3 linked regions of the Homo sapiens genome follow. The protein of the gene in region 2 interacts with the protein of the main gene of each other region in a biochemical or structural test. Each region holds a gene or a part of one and is shown on either strand. Other genes may lie near its edges.

Region 1 (5,068 bases), on a different chromosome or scaffold from region 2:
ACCAACAACATGGAAAGCGTCCGAAATCCCAGACATTAATATAAAGAGAAAAGAGGCAAAACTTTTAAGTCACAGTAAAGCAAAAAACACAGAATAAGCAACGTCTTCCACCATCCAATTAAATACAGAATGAAAGTCATGTACTAGAAGAACGGACCAACCCGGGAGCAGGGCGGGACTTTTGAAAATTTTTTAGTCCAATCCGGACATCCCTTTAGACTAAGAAACTGGCTCTTGTTTTGCGGTCTTTTCTGCCGTTCACAGGCCTGGGGCGGGACTGCCATCCCAAAACCATCCGCCAGCGAGAAAAGCCTCCGGTCAGGGACCTAGAAGCCGCAATAAAGGTTTAAATGCTGTAACCTCACCACGGCCACTCTCCAACCCCGTCACCCAATTCGTCTGATACCTCAGTAACTCCCATACGACTAACCTTAAGTAACAGGGCAGAACAAGAAAAGGCAGATAGTAAAGAAATTATCCAGCTCTTTTATTGAGATCAGTGGTGGCTCTGAAAAGAGCCTTTTGGGTTTTAGAAGTAGGCGTTCGCCTATTTCTTCTTGGGCGCCGCCTTCTTAGGCTTGACAACCTTGGGCTTAGCGGCCTTGGGCTTCACAGCCTTAGCAGCACTTTTGGCAGCTTTCTTGGGCTTCGCAACCTTGGCCTTCTTTGGGCTCTTAGCCACTTTCTTGGTTACAGTGGCCGCGGCCGGCTTCTTCGCTTTCTTCGGTGTTTTCTTAGCGCTCTTCTTCGGAGTTGCGCCGCCAGCCGCCTTCTTGGGCTTCTTGGCTGCCCCAACTGGCTTCTTAGGTTTGGTTCCGCCCGCCTTTTTAACCTTGGGCTTGGCTTCCCCGGAGGCTGCCTTCTTGTTGAGTTTAAAGGAGCCAGAAGCACCGGTGCCTTTCGTTTGCACCAGAGTGCCCTTGCTCACCAGGCTCTTGAGACCAAGTTTGATACGGCTGTTGTTTTTCTCCACATCATAGCCGGCGGCAGCCAACGCTTTTTTCAGAGCAGCCAGAGAAACTCCGCTACGCTCTTTAGAGGCGGCCACAGCCTTGGTGATGAGCTCTGACACCGGGGGACCAGACGCCTTACGAGGCGTACCCCCAGCCTTTTTGGCCGCCTTCTTCTTTACAGGGGCCTTCTCCGCAGGAGGCGCGGCAGCGGGAGCGGCAGGAGCAGTCTCGGACATGTTGAGAATCAAAAACTCGGGTACAAGTGGCAAAGCGCCGATGAAGCAGCGCCTGGGCAGGGCCGCTGTATATATAGAGCGCAGGCGCGCTCTGATTGGTGCTCTGGTCGCCCGCCTGGCTGGCAGGCTCTGAGCCGCTGCGCTGCTCCCAAGTTGTGTTTGTTCCACCTCACAAAAGGGGAAAAATATTAAAATTCCCCGCACCAAATCACTTGGGTTTGGTCAGGAAAGGATCTCAGAAGCCTCGGGCTTCATGCTCTTCATTTATTTTTTCCACAAACACAAAAACAACGCGTCCAGGCGTCCCCAATTCCCCCAACTCCGAAGGAAGTCTGGGGCAGTCAGAGACCACTTTCTGTTTTTCTTATAAATTACCTGTTCGCTCCTTTGCCCCTGAAGGTTCTTTTTCCCAGGGGTGGTTGGGCACATGCTTCCCTTATTTTTGAAGAAAAAAGCGAAATGGTTTCCACCTAAATTTTCATGATAATTCTGTTTCTTCACAAGGGAAGTAACACAGGTCCTCTGTGAATTCTTCGTGCAGTCGCACAGGAACTGTGGACTGGGACAAGGATTCCACGGCCAGTCCAAAGCAATTAGGGCGGGATGGGAGGGGGTTCATGAGCCTTGCTAGGGTCCGGGGTGGTGGGGGGCTACAGACTTAAATCTTTGATTTGAAGACATTGAAACTATCAAATCCCTCTTTTCATAGATGGGGGTGGGGCATCCTTTTCACTTCTCTACAGGCGAGAAATTGGGCTCTTTTTAAAGAGCTCTGAGGTCCCCCTCTGAGTTGTGTAAGGCAGGAGGTCTGGCCCTCAAGATAGAGATCATAAAGGAACAAGGGAGAGCCCTTAAGCCTGCAAAAAAGCCAATAGATTTGGCAGTTAGAGGCACTGAGATAATATGTTTTCAAAGAAAACAAGCATTTTTTATTTATTTATTTTTGTACGCTGCAATATAGAAATGAATTTCAGCCCATGAAAATTGTAGGTTACTTTCAGTAACCATACCTTACGCAAGTTACCATATAGGACAATCTCCAGTTGGGAACTCAAATATATCTTTTGAGTTGCAAATAAAGCAACTGACTTTAATAAAACACACTCTTGACTTTTAAGATGAACAATGTATTTGAAATTTATTTTTTTAAATAGCAAAATTTAACACAGAAAGACAAGAAAAGTACCAGAACATGTAATTTATTATAAGATCTGTTGTTGATGAGCTGAAAAATCACCTCTTCTCATCCCCTCTGAAACTATTCTGTTCTAAAGTTTGCTACTTTAAGGTTCACTACTTCTTATTTTACTCTCCGACCCCAAGTAATTGCTATTTTTTTCTTGAGATTAAAGGCAAAGTAAATTGTCTGCCCATATATTTGATATAATTATAGATTCATATTTAGGGACAAAGGTAATATTACAACTCCCCAACAATTTCTGCTCAAATATATGTTTTCATGAAAATATGTGTTAAAGAGAACAGCCTTAGATTGTGGGAAAGTCAAAAGGGAACCTACAAATAAGAGTTCAATGACAAATGAAAAGTGAAACATCTTTTAGACTAAGGGTGACCCCATTGTTTTATTAAATAACATTTGTCCAACATTTGTAAACATTGTCTGCTTGTGTGCTTATGTCCTCTGGGAATTAACAGTCTAATGAGATTAGTGATGGATGAATTAGCAGTGGTGGAAAAACACTTAGACCGGCTATTCCTCAGAGTGACAGGGTATAAGAATTATACAAAATTATGGAAAGTGTATAAACAATTGAAGCACCTGCATCATACTAATATATTGTAGTAAAAGAAATAATATAAGGCTGGGCCCCGTGGCCCACGCCTGTAATCCTAGCACTTTGGGAGACTCGGGGGCGGATCACCTGAGGCCAGGAGTTTGAGATCAGCCTAGCCGACATGGTGAAACACCATCTCTACTAAAAGTACAAAAATTAGCTGGGGGTGGTGGCACTCAGGAGGCTGAGGCAAGGGAATCGCTTGAACCCGGGAAGCAGAGGTTGCAATGAGCCGAAATGACGCCACTGCACTCCAGCCTGTGCAACAGGGTGAGACTCAGTCGAAAAAAAAAGAAAGAAAGGAACAATATAAGAACATGTCACTTAGGCCAGGCTTGGTGGCTCACGCCTGTAATCCTAGCACTTTGGGAGGCTGAGGCGGGCAGATCGCCTGAGGTCAGGAGTTCGAGACCAGCCTGGCCAGCATGGTGAAACCCCATCTCTACTAAAAAAAATACAAAAATTAGCCTGGCGTGGTGGCAGGCAACTCTAATCCCAGCTACTCAGGAAACTGAGGCAGGAGAATCATTTGAACCCGGGAGGTGGAGGTTGCAGTGAGCCGAGATTGCCTCGTTGCACTCCAGAAGCCGAGATTGCCTCATTGCACTCCAGAAGCCGAGATTGCCTCATTGCACTCCAGCCTGGGCAACAGAGCAAGACTCCATGTCAAAAAAAAAAAAATAAAATAAACATTTCACTTAGATCTTATTCTATGTGCAATGAACCCCCTTCTCATTTAAAACTCAGCTAAGTATATCCATCATGAAAATAGCTATGAAACGTCTTGATTACCAGGTAACTGGACCTTCTTTCACTATAAATTGGTGTCCTGGTTTATAAATCGACATGTAAATTTAATCGCTGTGATTCAGTTCTCTAATATGATTTTTCTAGTCGACTCAATCTAATCACATCTCTTTATATGCAAATCTCAAGTCCAGACCTCAAGCCATTAGGACATCCAGCCACCCAGAATCTTGTCCCCAACCTCCTGGCAACATGGTGGAGGCCAGAAGACAGAGAAACATGTAACCAACCCTTTTCTAGATCCTTTATAAAGTGTGTTGAAAAAGTTATGCAAAACTTAAAAGCAACGCAAAAATATTTCTCCATATCCTTCCAAGCTATATTAGAGAATTATCTAAAAAGCCTACTTATGGGGTACCTGATGATGTAAGGCAATACTAGACAGTAAAATAGAATGTGAATCACATAAATACTTTCCAGATTTCTAGTGGTCACATTGAAAGAATGAAAAGAAACAAGTAAAATTAATTTTAAGATATTTTATTTAACTTAATATATCTAAACTATTATCACTTCAACATATAATAAATAAGCTAAAAAAAAAGACAGTTGACATTCTTTTTTAAATGATAAATCTTCAGAACCTGGTGTGTATTTTACACTTTTAGAACATTTTAAATCAGTCTAGCTATAGTCCAAATGGTCAATGATCACGTGTAGCTAGTGGTACCTTATTGGACAACACTGTCCTACGTGAAAGTAACTCTGACTTAATGTTTACATTTTATTGGGTCCAGACTATCTAAAAGTAAACATTCACTTGTAGAAGTTTAATAAATTAATAAGGATTTTGTCATAGAGATGGAAATGAATTCTTAATATAGAAAAAATGACCCTAAAAGTTATTATTGTATTGCCTAATAAGTCATTAAACAACTTTATATCTGATTTTCCCTTCCTCTTCCAGTATACATCCTTTCCCTGACCAAATACATATTTTATTCTCCCGTATCTTCCTTTGACCTAATTGTGATTCTGCTTCCTCCTTCATTAATGAATTAAATCATTCATTGACACATACACAAGCTCACTATATATAGTACATATATGTCAGTCATGTTTTTAACTTCCTGAATGTTGTACTTTGACACTTGGTTGTTCAATTTCGCCTAAGAGCTCTGAATCAGAACCTTTAGAAGCCATTCTGAAAAACTGGAAGATACAAAGCTTTTGACTATCAACTCCATAGCAACCTGATATCTGGTTGGTGTTCCATGGAAACTGTATTTCTCAAATTTTGAAATAAGATTGAACAAGCCTGTGAGCAACAACAAAA
Region 2 (8,171 bases):
CGAATGTTGGAGGTGGGGCCTGGTGGGAGGTCACTGGATCACCGGGACAGATTTCTCCCTTGGTGCTGTGTCATGATACTTGTGAGTTCTCCTGAGATCTGGTTGTTGAAAAATGTGTAGCACCTCCCCTTTCACTCTCTTCCTCCTGCTCCGGCCATGTCAACTGCCGGCTTCTCCTCTGCCTTCTGCCATGACAGTAACAAGGTTGGAGGACTGACACTACCCAACCTAAAGACTTACTATGAAGCCACAGCAGTCAACACAGTGTGGTACTGGCAAAAGGATACGTAGATCAGTGGGACAGAACAGGGAGCCCAGAAACAGAGCCACACAAGCACAGTCCACTGATCTTTGACAAAAAAGTAAAGGCAAAAATGGAGAAAAGATAGTCTTTTCAACAAACGGAGCTGTAACAACTGGACATCCACATGCGAAAAAAAAAAAAGAAAAAAAATAAAGGAATCTAGACACAGACCTTACACCCTTCACAAAAAGTAACCAAAATGGATAACAGACCTAAATGTAAGACACAAAACTGTTAAACTTCTAGAAGAAAATCTATATGACCTTGGGTCTGGTGATGACTTTTTACAAACACCAAAAGCCCAATCCACTAAAGAAGTAACTGATTAACTAGACTTCACAAAATTAAGAACTTCTGCTCTGCGGAAGACCAGCCACACACTGAGAAAAAATATTTTCAAAAGACATATGACAAAGGGCTGTTATCCAAAATATACCAAGAACTCTTAGGACTCAACAGTAAGAAAACAAACAATGTGATTTTAAAAAGAGCAAAACCAGGAGTTTGAGACCAGTCTGGGCAACAAGGTGGGGCCCTGTCTCTACAAAAAATTTAAAAAAATTAGCCAGGCATGGTGGTGCGCACCTGTAGTCCCAGCTACTCAAGAGGCTGAGGTGGGAGACAGAGGTCAAGGCTGCAGCGAACTGTGATCACACCACTGCACTCTAGCCTGGGCGACGGAGCAAGACAGTCTTAAAAAAAAAAAAAAAAAGTGGGGGTAGGGGCAGGCAAAAGACATTTCACCAAAGATATACAGATGGTAAATAAACGTATGAGAAGATGTTCAAGATAATTACAGTATTAGGGAAATGCAAATTAAAACAATAATAAAATACTATATATCTATTGGAATGGCCAAAATCCAAAACAATGATAACACCAAATGCTGGCAAAGATGTATAATGATACGAACTCTCATCTATTGCTGGTGGGAATGGAAAATGATTCAGCTTTTTGAAAGACAGCTTGGCAGTTTCTTACAAAACTAAATATACTCTTACCACATGATCCAGCAATTGTACTCCTTGATTACCCAAAGGAGTTGAAAACTTATGTCCCCATAAAAACCTGCACATGGTGGGTGTTTCTAGCAGCTTTGTTCATAATCACCAAAACTTGGAAGCAATCAAGATGTCCTTCAGCAGGTCAATGAATAAACAAACTGTGGTAATCCAGACAATGGAATATTATTCAGTAATAAAAAGAAATGAGCTATCAATACGACAAGACATGGAGGAATCTTTTTTTTTTTTTTTTTTTGAGATGGAGTTTCGCTCTGTTGCCAGGCTGGAGTGCAGTGGCATGATCTCGGCTCACTGCAACCTCCGCCTCCCAGTACAACCAATTCTCCTGTCTCGGCCTCCCGAGTAGCTGGGACTACAGGTGCACACCACCACACCGGCTAATTTTTGTATTTTTAATAGAGACAGGGTTTCACCATATTGGCCAGGCTGGTCTCGAACTCCTGACCTCGTAATCTGCTGGGCTCGGCCTCCCAAAGTGCTGGGATTACAGATGTGAGCCACCGTGCCCGGCTCGACATGGAGGAATCTTAAGAGCACATTGCTAGTGAGAGAAGCCAATCTGAAAAGGCTACCTTCTGTATGATTCCAACTATATTATATTCTGGAAAAGGAAAAACTATGGAGAAAGCAAAAAGATCAGTGGTTACTGGAGGTTAGAGGGGAGGGAGGAATGACTAGGCAAAGCACAGAGATTTCCCAGGCAGTGAAAGGACTCTGGAGGCTACCATAAAGGTACATGCATGTCAATGTATGTTTGTTAAAACTGACAGAATGTACAATGCAAAGAGTGAGCCCTCATGTAAACTACAGACCTCGAGGGATAACGATGTGTCAATGTGGCTCATCAGTTATAACCATGGACCACTCCGATAACGATGTGTCAATGTAGCTCATCAGCTATAACCATGGACCACTCTGGTGGCGATGTTGATTGTGGACAAAAGTCTGTGTATGTGTGGGGTGGGTAGGGCTAGCGGGTATATGGAAACTCTGTACTTTACTCAATTTTGCTGTGAACCTAAAACTGCTATAAGAAAAAAAGTCTACATACAGAAGAATGTCATGAACCTGGGAGGCGGAGCTTACGGTGAGCCGAGATCACACCACTGCACCCCAGCTTGGGTGACAGAGCGAGAATCCGTCTCCAACAACAACGAAAAAAGTTTACATATAAAAAAAGGTTAAACAGACAATGGAACAGAAATTTTTAAAAGGACCCCAAAATACAGAGATTTTGTGCATGATACAAGACACCTCTCAATGGGGGAGATGAATAAGCCAATAAACAAAGTACAAAAAATTAGCTGGGCATGGTGGCAGGCACCACGCTACTCGGGAGGCTGAGGCAGGAGAATCGCCTGAACCCGGGAGGCGGAGGTGGCAGTGAGCCAAGACCATGCCACAGCACTCCAGCCTGGGCAACAGAGTGAGACTCCATCTCGAAAACAAAACAAAAACAAAAACAACAACAAAAAAACAAAGTAGGGAAACTAGATCATCATCTGGAAAAAAATAAAACTGGAGTCACGCCTCACACCACACATCAGCACACACCGGGATAACTCTCAAATAGAGTAAACATTTAGATGTTAAAAGAAATAAGGAACCATAAAATTACACGTACTGGATGTAGTTCATCTGTATCCCCAGGGTGGGCTACCTGACAGTGGCTGCTGGTGCCACAGCCTTGTTCCCTAGCACTGTCACTGCCTCAGGGTAAGGGCCACACCCTGGCATACCCACCCTGTAGTGACCACCACAGTAACAAACACAGCACTGTCACCAACAGGCCAACTCTTTCAAAACCAGGGACTGAGAGTCCTCCCGCCACTTCCAGATCTAGAGGCAGCTCTGGCTGCAGGGCGTGACTGTGCAGAGGCCAGGAACACAGTCTGGAAGTGCAGAGAACCACAGCACCTCCAGCGAGCTAAAACCAATGAGAAACAAGAGGCAGAAAGAACCAATGGATAATGCTGCTCCCTTCCTCCTGCTCCGAGGGGCTTTTCTGAAGCTTAGTGGCAAAGGACTTGCGTGAGGGCATCCTGCATGACCAAGCCATTGGCTGTTTCTCATGAAGCCATGGCCAGCTTGACAGCGTATGGCACTGTGCTTGCCCTCCTGCCTCCCCTTCCTCCCTCTCTCTTGCTGCCCTAGGATTACCTCTCCTAATAAAGCTTTTAATAGCTTTGCTTTCTGCTCTGCTATGTCACCTGACGTGACCTGTACTAAGACATGGGAGAAGACATAAAAGGAGAAAACTGTGGAGACAGTAAAAAGAGCAGTGGTTGTCAGGAATTAGGAGGGATAAACAGGGGATTTTTAGAGCAGTGAAACTGATGCAGGGCAGGCCAGCCCTAAATTGGGGATTGGCCTGGGCGGGTCCTTGGCTTCGCTCTGGAAAGCATTTAAGAGCGAGCTCGTGGTAGAAGAAAGCAGCTTTATTGAGGCAGCAGTGTTATGGCTCTGTGACTGCTCCTGCAGAGCAGGGCTACCCCACAGGCACTGTGCTGAGAGCAGCAGCTCAAAGGCAGTTCTGAAGTCATATTTACACCCACTTTTAATTATATGCAAATTAAGGGGCAGACTATGCAGACATGTTAAGAAACGGGGTGGTAACTTTTAGGTCATCAGATTGTTGTCACAGAAAGGGGTGGTAACTTCCGGGTATTGCCATGGCAATGGTAAACTGATATGGCACACTGGTGGGTGTTTTATGGAAAGCTGCTTCGTCCCTGTCCCTGCTTTAGTTAGTCCTCGGTTTGGTTTGGTGTCTGAGCCCCACCTCCTACCTCATTCCCCTCTCAGAGATGAGCTATTCTTCCTTAATCTTAAGGGGGCTGCAGAAGGGTGCAGGTCTGAAACTACTCTGTATGATACTATAATGGCAGATGCATGTCATCATACATTTGTCCAAACCCATAGAATGTAGAGCATCAGGAGTTTCTGGACTCTGGGCAATAATGATGTGTCAGTGTAGGTTCCTCAATTATAACAAATGTACTACTCTGGTGGGAGGTGTTGACAAGGAAGAGCCTGTGTGGTGGGAGGGGGAGGGGGTACTGGAAACTCTTTGTTCTTTGCTTACTTTTGCCATGAACAAAAATAAAGTATATTAAAAACAAAACAACTTTAAAGGCTACATTCCAAGCACCTGGAAAAACAAAATACCAAATATCATGCAACAGATGATGCTGAGTCCAGGAGGTGTTGCTGAAATAACATGGGCACCATACGCTTGATCTGCACATGTGGGAGAGGGCAAGCTGGGGGAGGTTTGCTTTGCTCTCTGAGACGAGGCCCTCCTGGGAGCTTCAGGGTGGGGGCTGAATGCCCATGCTGCCCCAGTATGTACACACCTGTCACTCCTCCAGCTTCCGCTGTCTTCTTGACTTTCTGCTGGTCATCCCACCGAAGCTCAGAGAACCCATCCACCTCAACGTCAGGGTGCCGGATGGAGTGGCCCACCTTCCAGAAGCAGGAGAAGTGGTACCAGTGTGGGACTTTTCCATCAAACATGGGCGACTAGAAGGAAGAGAAACAGAGGGAAGTAAGTAAGCAGTTAACTTTTGACTTAGACCCACTAGACCTTGACCTTGACCTCGACCCCAGTCCCAGCCCCAGCAGTGGGATAGCACATGAAACTTTTGTTCTCCTATCTGTGAAAGGAGGACAGCCTCCGCTCTCACATGAAGAGCTGCAGCATCCTTCTCACGATCTTCCCCAAGGGTCAGAAGACTGTAGCCCACTGTTCTTGAGCTCATTCTCTTAGGACACCAAACACAGCCACGAGAAAGGTGGCCTTTTACCACTGAGCTCTGCCCCACGTCCCTTTTGACCACACACTGCTACATTTAGTGGTGAGCTGCCTCATGGCCTAGTGAAATGCACAGAAGACACTTGTGCAGAGTCACAATCCTGCAGCATCTGCTGGGAATGGCCAGACAACTGCTCCAGGCTTGCCTGGACTCAAAGGGCCTGTGTGCCCCAGAAAAGGGCTCTTTAAGTGCCTCTGCAGTTAAGAATAACAAGGAACAAGTCCCAGATAATGAGCAAAGCAGAGAAAGTGTGTCAGAAAAAAGTGTCAAGCTTGCAGCAGCCACACAGATGGGAGTGGAATGAATGGAGGTCTTTGAGGCAACTGTGACAGCGGATGGTTCGGGGCAGCATGCCTAGAGCTGGAGTCAGCTGCTCACTGGCCTTCTGGGGCGCAGTTTCCCAGGCGTAGGACCTGAGAAGTCTGGCCACAGGGAACACAGTTCCCCTCTCCAGGTGGTTTGCTTCCCACTAGGCCTTTCATTGTGACAGGGTCAGGTTCTGCTCCCAGGCCTCGAGCACTGTCTGGCTTTGTTTTTGAGACCGAGTCTTGCACTGAGTGCAGTGGTGCGATCTCAGCTCACTGCAACCTCTGTCTCCTGGGTTCAAGCGATTCTCCTGCCTCGGCCTCCTGAGTAGCTGGGACTACAGGCACGTGCCACCCATGCCTGGCTAATTTTTGTATTGTTAGTAGCAATGGGGCTTCACCATGTTGGCCAGGCTGGTCTCGAACTTCTGACCTCGTGACCCGCCCGCCTCGGCTTCCCGAAGTGCTGGGATTACAGGCATGAACCACTGCACCCAGTCCTGGCTTTACAGAGTGGACGGTGACAGCGATTGGGAAGAAGGGGAAGACACAGTATGTAGTGTGTGTCCCTGCTCCTTTCATAAGCCATCCTGTGTAATCCCACAATCTGCCTCTGGGTGGGAACCAGCCCTTTCATTCACAGATGGAGACAGTGGGGCTGGAAATCCTTGCCTGGGGGGTTGGGAGTCACAGAGGCAGCAAATGAATGATTTGACACTATGATTCCTCCCACCACACTCCACTGCCCGGCAGGAAGAGCTACTTAAAAATACACCAACTGTGATCTGACTAAAGTAAGGGAAGTCCCAAACATCTGCTTTTATAGAACATAAAGCTAAATGTCACACAGATGCAATAAGACTATTAAAACAGCATTAAAAGTAAATGTGCTGAATTTTTAGGATGGAGTTGCGGGGACAGGGAAAATACTCTGGAAAAGCAATGATAAGGTACCCCACTATCTCTCTCCACTGTGAGTGGCCTCTTTCTGGATGTGATGTATTAAAATGCACAGCTAAGACTATGGCAGCACAAGGACTCCTCAACATCAGCTTTCCCCTGGGTCTGGAATGCTCTCCAGCCCTGTTCAGAGCACTCCCTCAGATCTCCCAATGCTCCTTCCACAGCTCCCCTCACTAAGAACTATGCATTTGGTGATTATTTCATAAGGGCCTATCTTGCTATTCTCTAGCAACATGTCACAGAGGGCACGCAGTGTTTGCTTAGGGCTCCAAGTCAGATGGAACAAAAAAGGAAGGATGGGGAAATTCCTGCTGTAGAAGAGACAACAAATGGCATTTCTGAGAGCATACTCATGTTCCAACTCTCAAACGTTCCACCAGATCTCAATTAGGCTGCTGATACAGATCCCTAAGCATCTGGCTATCATGGAATATTTGCAATGGCCTCGACCTGGCTCTGCCTGCTTGTCTACCCCTTGTCTACCCTTCCTGTGCAATGTTCCAGTTACCCTTGTATAAAGAGCACAGGTAATGGCTATGGCACTTCTTCCTGGCTCTGCCAGGGGCCCCAGACCTGCTGCCCTTTGGTCTGGGTGCTGTCTCCCCCAACCACCGGCACAGTGCTGGACACCCTGGAGGTGCTGCCCAATGGTGCAATCACAGCACAAGCTTAGAGGACAAGAGCCTCAGCAGAAGCACCCCTGACCAAAGCAATGCTTTGCCCTAAACTCAGGACTGAGAATGATGTGGCAGAAAGGCACCAAACCAAGGTCACAAGACTATCGACTCCATTTGTTAGCTGCACAGCTGAGGCAAGGCACAGAATCTTTGGCTGTGCACCCAAGCAAAAACTGAGCACCTAACATACCAGGGTCCTCACCCAACCAGCAGCTGGTGAACTGGGTTCCCTTCTGTGCAGAACAGGCCATGCTACCTGTCCACCTAGGCCACAGAGAGAATGAACTGACCTCACTGCATGCCTCCGGGTGCTCAAACCCTCCCAGGACAGAGCAACTCAAAGGTCTACCGCCATCCTCCTCCCACCAAAATGCTGGAGGGCCCAGCTCATCCCTCCCAAGATGCCCCAGGCATGAGGGCTAAAGTGTCAGGTATCAGATACTCAGAGAACAATACTCCCATGTAAATGTAAAAGAAGGTATTTAAATTCAAGCAAGTGAAAAGGCTTCTTTCTTTTTGGCCTTCACCAGCTCAGTCTACCAGACCAACTTTAAATTCTGAATTAAAACTCTGAATCCACCCTTAATCACCATTACATAAAAATCACAGTTACTTTTAATAATAAAGAGTTTCTTTCACTATCAAGTATACCAAAGGAAAGCCCAGAATGTTGTTATTACTATTTTTTTTTTCAGACAGGGTCTGGGTCTGGGTCTGGGTCTGTCGCCCAGGCTGGAGTGCAGTGGCACTATCTCAGCTCACTGCAACCTCCACCTCCCAGGCTCAAGCAATCTTCCAGCTTCAGCCTCCGGAGTAGCTGGGACTTAACAGGCACGCACCACCACGACCCGCTAATCATTGCATTTTTTTGTAGAGACAGGTTTCACCATGTTGGCCAGGCTGGTCTCAAACTGCTGAGCTTAAGTAATCTGCCCACCCCAGCCTCCCAAAGTGCTGAGATTACAAGCATGCGCCACCAAGCCCGGCCCCAGAATGCTAAACTTGATCAGGTTCAGTTTCCTCCATCCGGCCTCCCCCACAGCTAAGCCTCCTCTAACTTCCTCCACAGCGGTGTTGTTCTA
Region 3 (6,859 bases), on a different chromosome or scaffold from region 2:
AGGATGAGCCCTAAACCTCATCCTAAAGGATGAGGGCCAGCCAGGGTCTGTTAGGCGGTGCATTTCAGTTGGAGAATTCCCTACCCATCTGACAAAGTCCCATCTGACTCCAGTTGGGCAGAGGAGGGGTAAGGGGAAAGAGGAGGGTGGCCTTTGGCTTTGGGCTCACTTTCCTCCCCCACCTCACCCACTAGCTTCAACCATCTCCTCCCTCCCTCAATTATACCAATCTGAATTCTCCAGGGATTTACCCTGGGTGAGAACAGAGAAGAGAGCTGGTGGTGGGCACCACCCCTGGCTGTGTGATTGGCTCTTTTTGGTCCTGAGTCTTGCACCTTGCCAGATAGGCAATATTGTCAGTGAGGTGGGCAGGGGATCAATGTCCATAGCTGCCAGATCGCAAGGTCTCATTCTTTCCATTTTCCCACTGAACTGCGTAGGCTGGATTTTCTCTTAAAGAGAAAGGGCAGCAGTTGACTACAGAAGGAGGGGATGCTGGCAATACGTCAGATCTCACCTCCCCACACCTTTGTCCCAGGGTGGCCTCACCCATGTAGCTAGGTCTGGGCTGGCTGTACCTCCTGGGACCCCCCCCACCACGCTGCACTGGGGCGGTGTTAAGGCAGGACAACAAAGAGCCCTTCTGAACAGGAGATAGATAAGAAGCTGATTAGGGCCAACGGCCCTTCCCCGCCCTTGGCAGCATCTGGGGGTGGGCAGACCCCTCCATCCTGGGCAGAGTAGGAGGCCTGGGGGCCCATGGGAGCACAGTTTTCTGCAGTGTGCCTTGAAGGTGTGGGTGATGAGGGGGTAGAAAGTGGCTGAAGCGAGATGTTTGTCTAAAAGCACTTTTCTGTCTCCCAGCATCCCAGCCATCACTCTTCCACCTGCTCCTTAGAGAAGGGAAGATGAGTGAGTCGAGCTCGAAGTCCAGCCAGCCCTTGGCCTCCAAGCAGGAAAAGGACGGCACTGAGAAGCGGGGCCGGGGCAGGCCGCGCAAGCAGCCTCCGGTGAGTCCCGGGACAGCGCTGGTAGGGAGTCAGGTGGGTGTCCAAACCTTTGCTTCACTTGGTTTACCCTTTGGGGCTAGGGAGGTGCCTGGAGTTTCATTCAGCAGGCGAGACCATGCATGGAGGGTGCAGAATGATTCTGCGCAGTAAGCGTGTGGGTGTGTCCTCCCACCTGTGTGTACTCCTGCCCCACTTGCAACCCTGGTCAGATCTCTATAGAGACCCCAGGAGAGAACCGGGGGCCGAGGAATTCAAGATAAATTCTGAAGCCAATGGCAAACAGTCCAAACCTAAAGCACCCCAGAGGTCACATGGCCAGTGCTTAAAACACTCGCCTTTTTCTTAATTTCCAATCCACTGTGGACCAGTAATTTTAAAATGCAGTAAAGACGAATGAACAAAAATGAACATAGAAGCCCAGGGTTTTTAATCATTAGATTCAGTGCACGTAAAATGATTTTTGTCAATTTGCTGTAAAGTTGCTGAATACTTATGGTCGATTCTTGTACTTCCTCATCCCAGGTGAGAAACGGGTGCCTGCGTGGGCCAGCACCTGTTTGTGCACAGGCCAGTTATGAGTAGTTCTGGAATGGGCATTGCCCCTGGCTCTTTAGATGGAAATTGAAGCCCAAGAAGTCAAAAATGTTGGGGAGTTGGTGGCAGTGACCCTCAGAACCCTGGTGCTGCTCTCCCCACAAAGTCCTCATAGAAGGATGAGGCTGCCAGCCTGGCGCTGTGGGGCACCCTAGGGAGCATGGCCATTTGGGCATGGGGGGGACCCCATATTGGCCTCTTACAGAGGCAGCTGTCACCCAAGTGAAGGGTGGCTGTTGGTGAAGCCCAGTTACTTCCCTTCCCTGGGAGAGAGGTAAGAGGAGTTGAGTTCGACCTCTGCCCCTTAAACATGATACAGGTTGTTCACCTGCAGGTTTTCCCTGTCCGTACGGTGGAGAGTGGTCTGTGCTGACCTGGGCCCAGGGAGACACGAGCTGTGAGGAGTCTGCTGTGTTGGAATTCAGAGCCTGGGGTGGGGTCATTTGTCCTCTTAGCCTAGCTCCCTCAGCCTCCCCTCCTACCCCACCTGTTAGCCATGGTCAGTGGGAGGTGTCAGGAGGGGTGCAGGGTTACTGGACCCTGGTTATAGACAGACCATGGGCGGCCCCCTAGGAAACAGTAGCTGGCGCGCCTTCACCACACACCTTATATGCATTATGCAGCAGCTTTTTATTCTATCTACGGCTTATTAAAATTTCAGTGGGAATGATGGCAGGGATCTCTGGAGTCCGGCTATAATTCCCCTTCTCTGGGGGCAGCCTGGATGGGCTCCAGGTTTGCAAGTGCAGGCAGGGAGTGTGTGTCCAGCATAGGTCATCTGAGAGGGTGGGCAGTGATCATGGCCCAGTGCTAGATAACCATACATTACCCATTTAATCTCCATGACACCCTGCAAGGGAAGTCTTCACCATTTATAGATGAGGAAACTGAGGCTCCAGCATTAAGTGTCCCACCCAAGATAAGTGTCAGAACTGAGACTTGGGCAGAGCCACCTAACTGTCTTTCTGTCCCCAGAATGCCTTTCCTAGGGGTCTTCTGGGCTCTTGTCATTTTGCATCTTAGAAACCTGCAGGGAAGCAAGGGGAGAGGTGGGAGGCACTTTGCAAAGATGCTCAAACTGGAGCTTTGGATCCTGAAGGGATTCCTAGGTCAGGGATGGTTTGTGGTTCTTGGTTCTTGCTGACTTAACCTTGTTGAGGAGGCAGAGGGCTGTGTCTTCTGAGGGGGTGGAAACAGGTGATGACTGTCCCTGACTACCCCCTCTGTCTTTACAGAAGGAGCCCAGCGAAGTGCCAACACCTAAGAGACCTCGGGGCCGACCAAAGGGAAGCAAAAACAAGGGTGCTGCCAAGACCCGGGTGAGACTTGAGATGGGACTACCCCTGGGTGGATGACTAGCAGAGGATCCTCTTGTTGGCACCATGGCCACGGCTGTGGGGAGGTCTGGGAAGGGGCTCAGTCATCTCAGTTGTGTACCCCCTTCCCTGGTACAGGGATGGCAGTGAGTCTTTGCTAACTGGGGAGAGTGGGGCGATGACTAAGGTCTTACTTCTGGGGGGTTGGTCCTGCCCAGGACACTGCGGAGATCAGGTCAGAAGTCCCACAGCTTTCCTGATCTAGAGAAGGGCAGAGTGGGGAGAATGGAGGGTCCCTGCCAGTCCCTGGGCTGAGAATGTTACCTTCTCTTGGGGTTCCCTGGAGCCTGAAGGGGTGGGGACAGGCAGCAAAGGCCAGATTCACAGTGACATTAGCCTTTCAGAAAAGTTGTTTTGTTTTTTATTTTATTTTTTCTAAGACACGACTCATATCCTCTGAGTCATGGGCGGAGGTGGGAGTAGGGGGCGTGTGTGTATGTCGAGGGGGCAAATGTGGCTGGCCAGTCATTGCCAGCTGGACTTGGGTGGGCCTGTTGGGTGAGAGTGTTGGGTCACCCTGAACAGGCAGGTAGGTCTGCCCCCCATCACTATTGGGCATCGGGTGAGCACTGATGAGCATTTTGGACTTAGGAGATATTTTCTCTAACCCTCTAGAAAACCACCACAACTCCAGGAAGGAAACCAAGGGGCAGACCCAAAAAACTGGTAGGTGAAGAAGCAGACTGCTGCTTGCCTCCTGGGCTCTTTTGAGTTGAGGGTGTTGAGTACACAGTACCTGATGCTATGCACCCCCTATGGAAAGGCTCTCCTTGACCTGCTGGGACATCAGATTTTACAGAAGTCCAGAGAGGGGAAGGTACCTGGCCTGGGCTGTGCCCATGAGAAGTGAGGGGTCCCAGGTATAAATCAGACCACATCCCCCTGCCCTGCCCTGCCCTAGTTGTGTGTGGGGGTCCCTCCCTCTCCTGCTCCTAGAATACTCAGAACTTCTAGGGGAGATCTTGGAAGTCATCTAGCCTGTGTCCCCCTCAATTAGAGATGAGGAAAGGAAGCCATAGGGGGAAGGTTTGTCCTTCCTATGAGCCTCTGCAGAAGAGAAACAGCGAAGGAGCTGGGCCCTGGGAGGGGTCGGTGCTGGAGTTCTGATGTGACCCACCACACTGCACTGGAGGGCACCATCCAATTCTGGGTCCCCAAACAGCTGGTGGAAAGGCTCGGTGGGCTGAGTCAAGAAGCTGCCTCTAGGGGGCCACTGCAGTTAGGGTCACCCCAGCCTTCCAGCTCCTGGCCCTCTCCTACCCCCAGCCTGCCCCCTCAAATCCCTGAAGCTGTCATTCCTTGAGCTGAGCCACTGCTGGGGTGGGGGGGTTAGGGGGTGCTGCTGGCCAGGCCCCAAGAGTGAGTAACAGGAAACAAGTTGTTTTGGAGTTTGTGCCTGGCACGGGGGCTGTAGCCCCGTGTGGTGTCCCGACATTCCCGCCCAGTGAGTGAGCCCCGGCGGCACACACTTCCCCTTCCTCCCCACCCCGGCCTAGGGTCAGCCCTCGGCCACCCCGGAGGGCCAGGGCACCACAGCACAGCATCTGCCCCTGTGGGCCAAGGACCTGGTTCCCCTGCACCCACCAGCGGGCTCTTGCACCTTCCAGCCACCCCTTCCCATTTCCTCCCCCAGCCACCTCTTCCCCCACCTCCTCTTCTCCCCTAGGGAGTCAGTCACATCCTGAAGCTCATTGCTGCCCTGAGCTCTGCCCTCCTGCCCTCCCTGGGCCTGGGGGCCAAGGGGGCTTGGCTCCTGGCTCTGGGTGAGAGCAGCATGTGTGTGGGGTTTTTTCCTCCTTTTAAATTCTTTTTATGAATGAAGCCGGGCCGTGGAGGTTGCTGAGTCACCCACACACTCAGCCCTGACTCATCCCTCTTCAGGAGAGCCAGGGAGTGCAGGGAGCGGGTGGGGCCAGCCTCTGGGGGTGGAAGAGGGGGACCGGGCCAGAGCTCACACCAACAACTGCCCACCTCACAGGAGAAGGAGGAAGAGGAGGGCATCTCGCAGGAGTCCTCGGAGGAGGAGCAGTGACCCATGCGTGCCGCCTGCTCCTCACTGGAGGAGCAGCTTCCTTCTGGGACTGGACAGCTTTGCTCCGCTCCCACCGCCCCCACCCCTTCCCCAGGCCCACCATCACCACCGCCTCTGGCCGCCACCCCCATCTTCCACCTGTGCCCTCACCACCACACTACACAGCACACCAGCCGCTGCAGGGCTCCCATGGGCTGAGTGGGGAGCAGTTTTCCCCTGGCCTCAGTTCCCAGCTCCCCCCGCCCACCCACGCATACACACATGCCCTCCTGGACAAGGCTAACATCCCACTTAGCCGCACCCTGCACCTGCTGCGTCCCCACTCCCTTGGTGGTGGGGACATTGCTCTCTGGGCTTTTGGTTTGGGGGCGCCCTCTCTGCTCCTTCACTGTTCCCTCTGGCTTCCCATAGTGGGGCCTGGGAGGGTTCCCCTGGCCTTAAAAGGGGCCCAAGCCCCATCTCATCCTGGCACGCCCTACTCCACTGCCCTGGCAGCAGCAGGTGTGGCCAATGGAGGGGGGTGCTGGCCCCCAGGATTCCCCCAGCCAAACTGTCTTTGTCACCACGTGGGGCTCACTTTTCATCCTTCCCCAACTTCCCTAGTCCCCGTACTAGGTTGGACAGCCCCCTTCGGTTACAGGAAGGCAGGAGGGGTGAGTCCCCTACTCCCTCTTCACTGTGGCCACAGCCCCCTTGCCCTCCGCCTGGGATCTGAGTACATATTGTGGTGATGGAGATGCAGTCACTTATTGTCCAGGTGAGGCCCAAGAGCCCTGTGGCCGCCACCTGAGGTGGGCTGGGGCTGCTCCCCTAACCCTACTTTGCTTCCGCCACTCAGCCATTTCCCCCTCCTCAGATGGGGCACCAATAACAAGGAGCTCACCCTGCCCGCTCCCAACCCCCCTCCTGCTCCTCCCTGCCCCCCAAGGTTCTGGTTCCATTTTTCCTCTGTTCACAAACTACCTCTGGACAGTTGTGTTGTTTTTTGTTCAATGTTCCATTCTTCGACATCCGTCATTGCTGCTGCTACCAGCGCCAAATGTTCATCCTCATTGCCTCCTGTTCTGCCCACGATCCCCTCCCCCAAGATACTCTTTGTGGGGAAGAGGGGCTGGGGCATGGCAGGCTGGGTGACCGACTACCCCAGTCCCAGGGAAGGTGGGGCCCTGCCCCTAGGATGCTGCAGCAGAGTGAGCAAGGGGGCCCAAATCGACCATAAAGGGTGTAGGGGCCACCTCCTCCCCCTGTTCTGTTGGGGAGGGGTAGCCATGATTTGTCCCAGCCTGGGGCTCCCTCTCTGGTTTCCTATTTGCAGTTACTTGAATAAAAAAAATATCCTTTTCTGGACTGGAGTCTCCTGTGGTGTGTGCCCCTAAAGCCTGGGGCAGGTAGGATGGGTGACACTTGTGTTCTGGCCCCCATCCTTCAGGCTGCAGGAAGGGAGGGGAAATAGCACTGGAATCACCTCCGGGGAAGGTCATTTTAAGCCTCTTGATGAAATCAAAACCCCTAGCCACAAAACATTTTATTTACAAAATATATACTGAATACTATACATCTGGCCCCATCACCATGGAAACAACTCCAAAGCCTGCCTGGGGATTTGTGCCCAAGCCCAGCCCAGGAGGGCTAGAGAAAGCAAAGGTGTCTACCAGCCGCCCCCATCCCAGAAGGAAAGCCTCTTCCCATGAGTGCCTGTGGGTGGGCGGTGAGCTCAACACCCACAAAGGGCAGAAGGCCTGGGGGCAGTGAGGTGATGGTGAGGGCATGGGAAGCAGATGCTGCTGAGGGTGGGTGGAGGGAGAAATGGAGACCCAGCACCCAGCAGGGGGAGCCAGGTGACAGCA

The links. The genes of interacting proteins can lie anywhere in the genome.
Region 1: the proteins of PARP1 (region 2) and H1-2 form a complex in vitro, tested with the Homo sapiens proteins (2 studies listed by BioGRID, with this or other methods).
Region 3: the proteins of PARP1 (region 2) and HMGA1 form a complex in vitro, tested with the Homo sapiens proteins (2 studies listed by BioGRID, with this or other methods).

The regions. Positions count from the first base shown.
Region 1 is NC_000006.12:26,055,240-26,060,307, forward strand, and holds H1-2 (histone H1.2), read right to left. Parts: upstream 1,232-5,068; 5' UTR 1,190-1,231; coding exon 548-1,189; 3' UTR 501-547; downstream 1-500. UniProt on the Homo sapiens protein: Histone H1 protein binds to linker DNA between nucleosomes forming the macromolecular structure known as the chromatin fiber. Histones H1 are necessary for the condensation of nucleosome chains into higher-order structured fibers.
Region 2 is NC_000001.11:226,397,529-226,405,699, forward strand, and holds part of PARP1 (poly [ADP-ribose] polymerase 1), read right to left. Parts: intron 4,852-8,171; coding exon 4,686-4,851; intron 1-4,685. UniProt on the Homo sapiens protein: Poly-ADP-ribosyltransferase that mediates poly-ADP-ribosylation of proteins and plays a key role in DNA repair.
Region 3 is NC_000006.12:34,239,873-34,246,731, forward strand, and holds the end of HMGA1 (high mobility group protein HMG-I/HMG-Y), read left to right. Parts: intron 1-800; exon of another isoform or gene 801-864; 5' UTR 865-908; coding exon 909-1,043; intron 1,044-2,839; coding exon 2,840-2,923; intron 2,924-3,595; coding exon 3,596-3,646; intron 3,647-4,958; coding exon 4,959-5,012; 3' UTR 5,013-6,359; downstream 6,360-6,859. UniProt on the Homo sapiens protein: HMG-I/Y bind preferentially to the minor groove of A+T rich regions in double-stranded DNA. It is suggested that these proteins could function in nucleosome phasing and in the 3'-end processing of mRNA transcripts.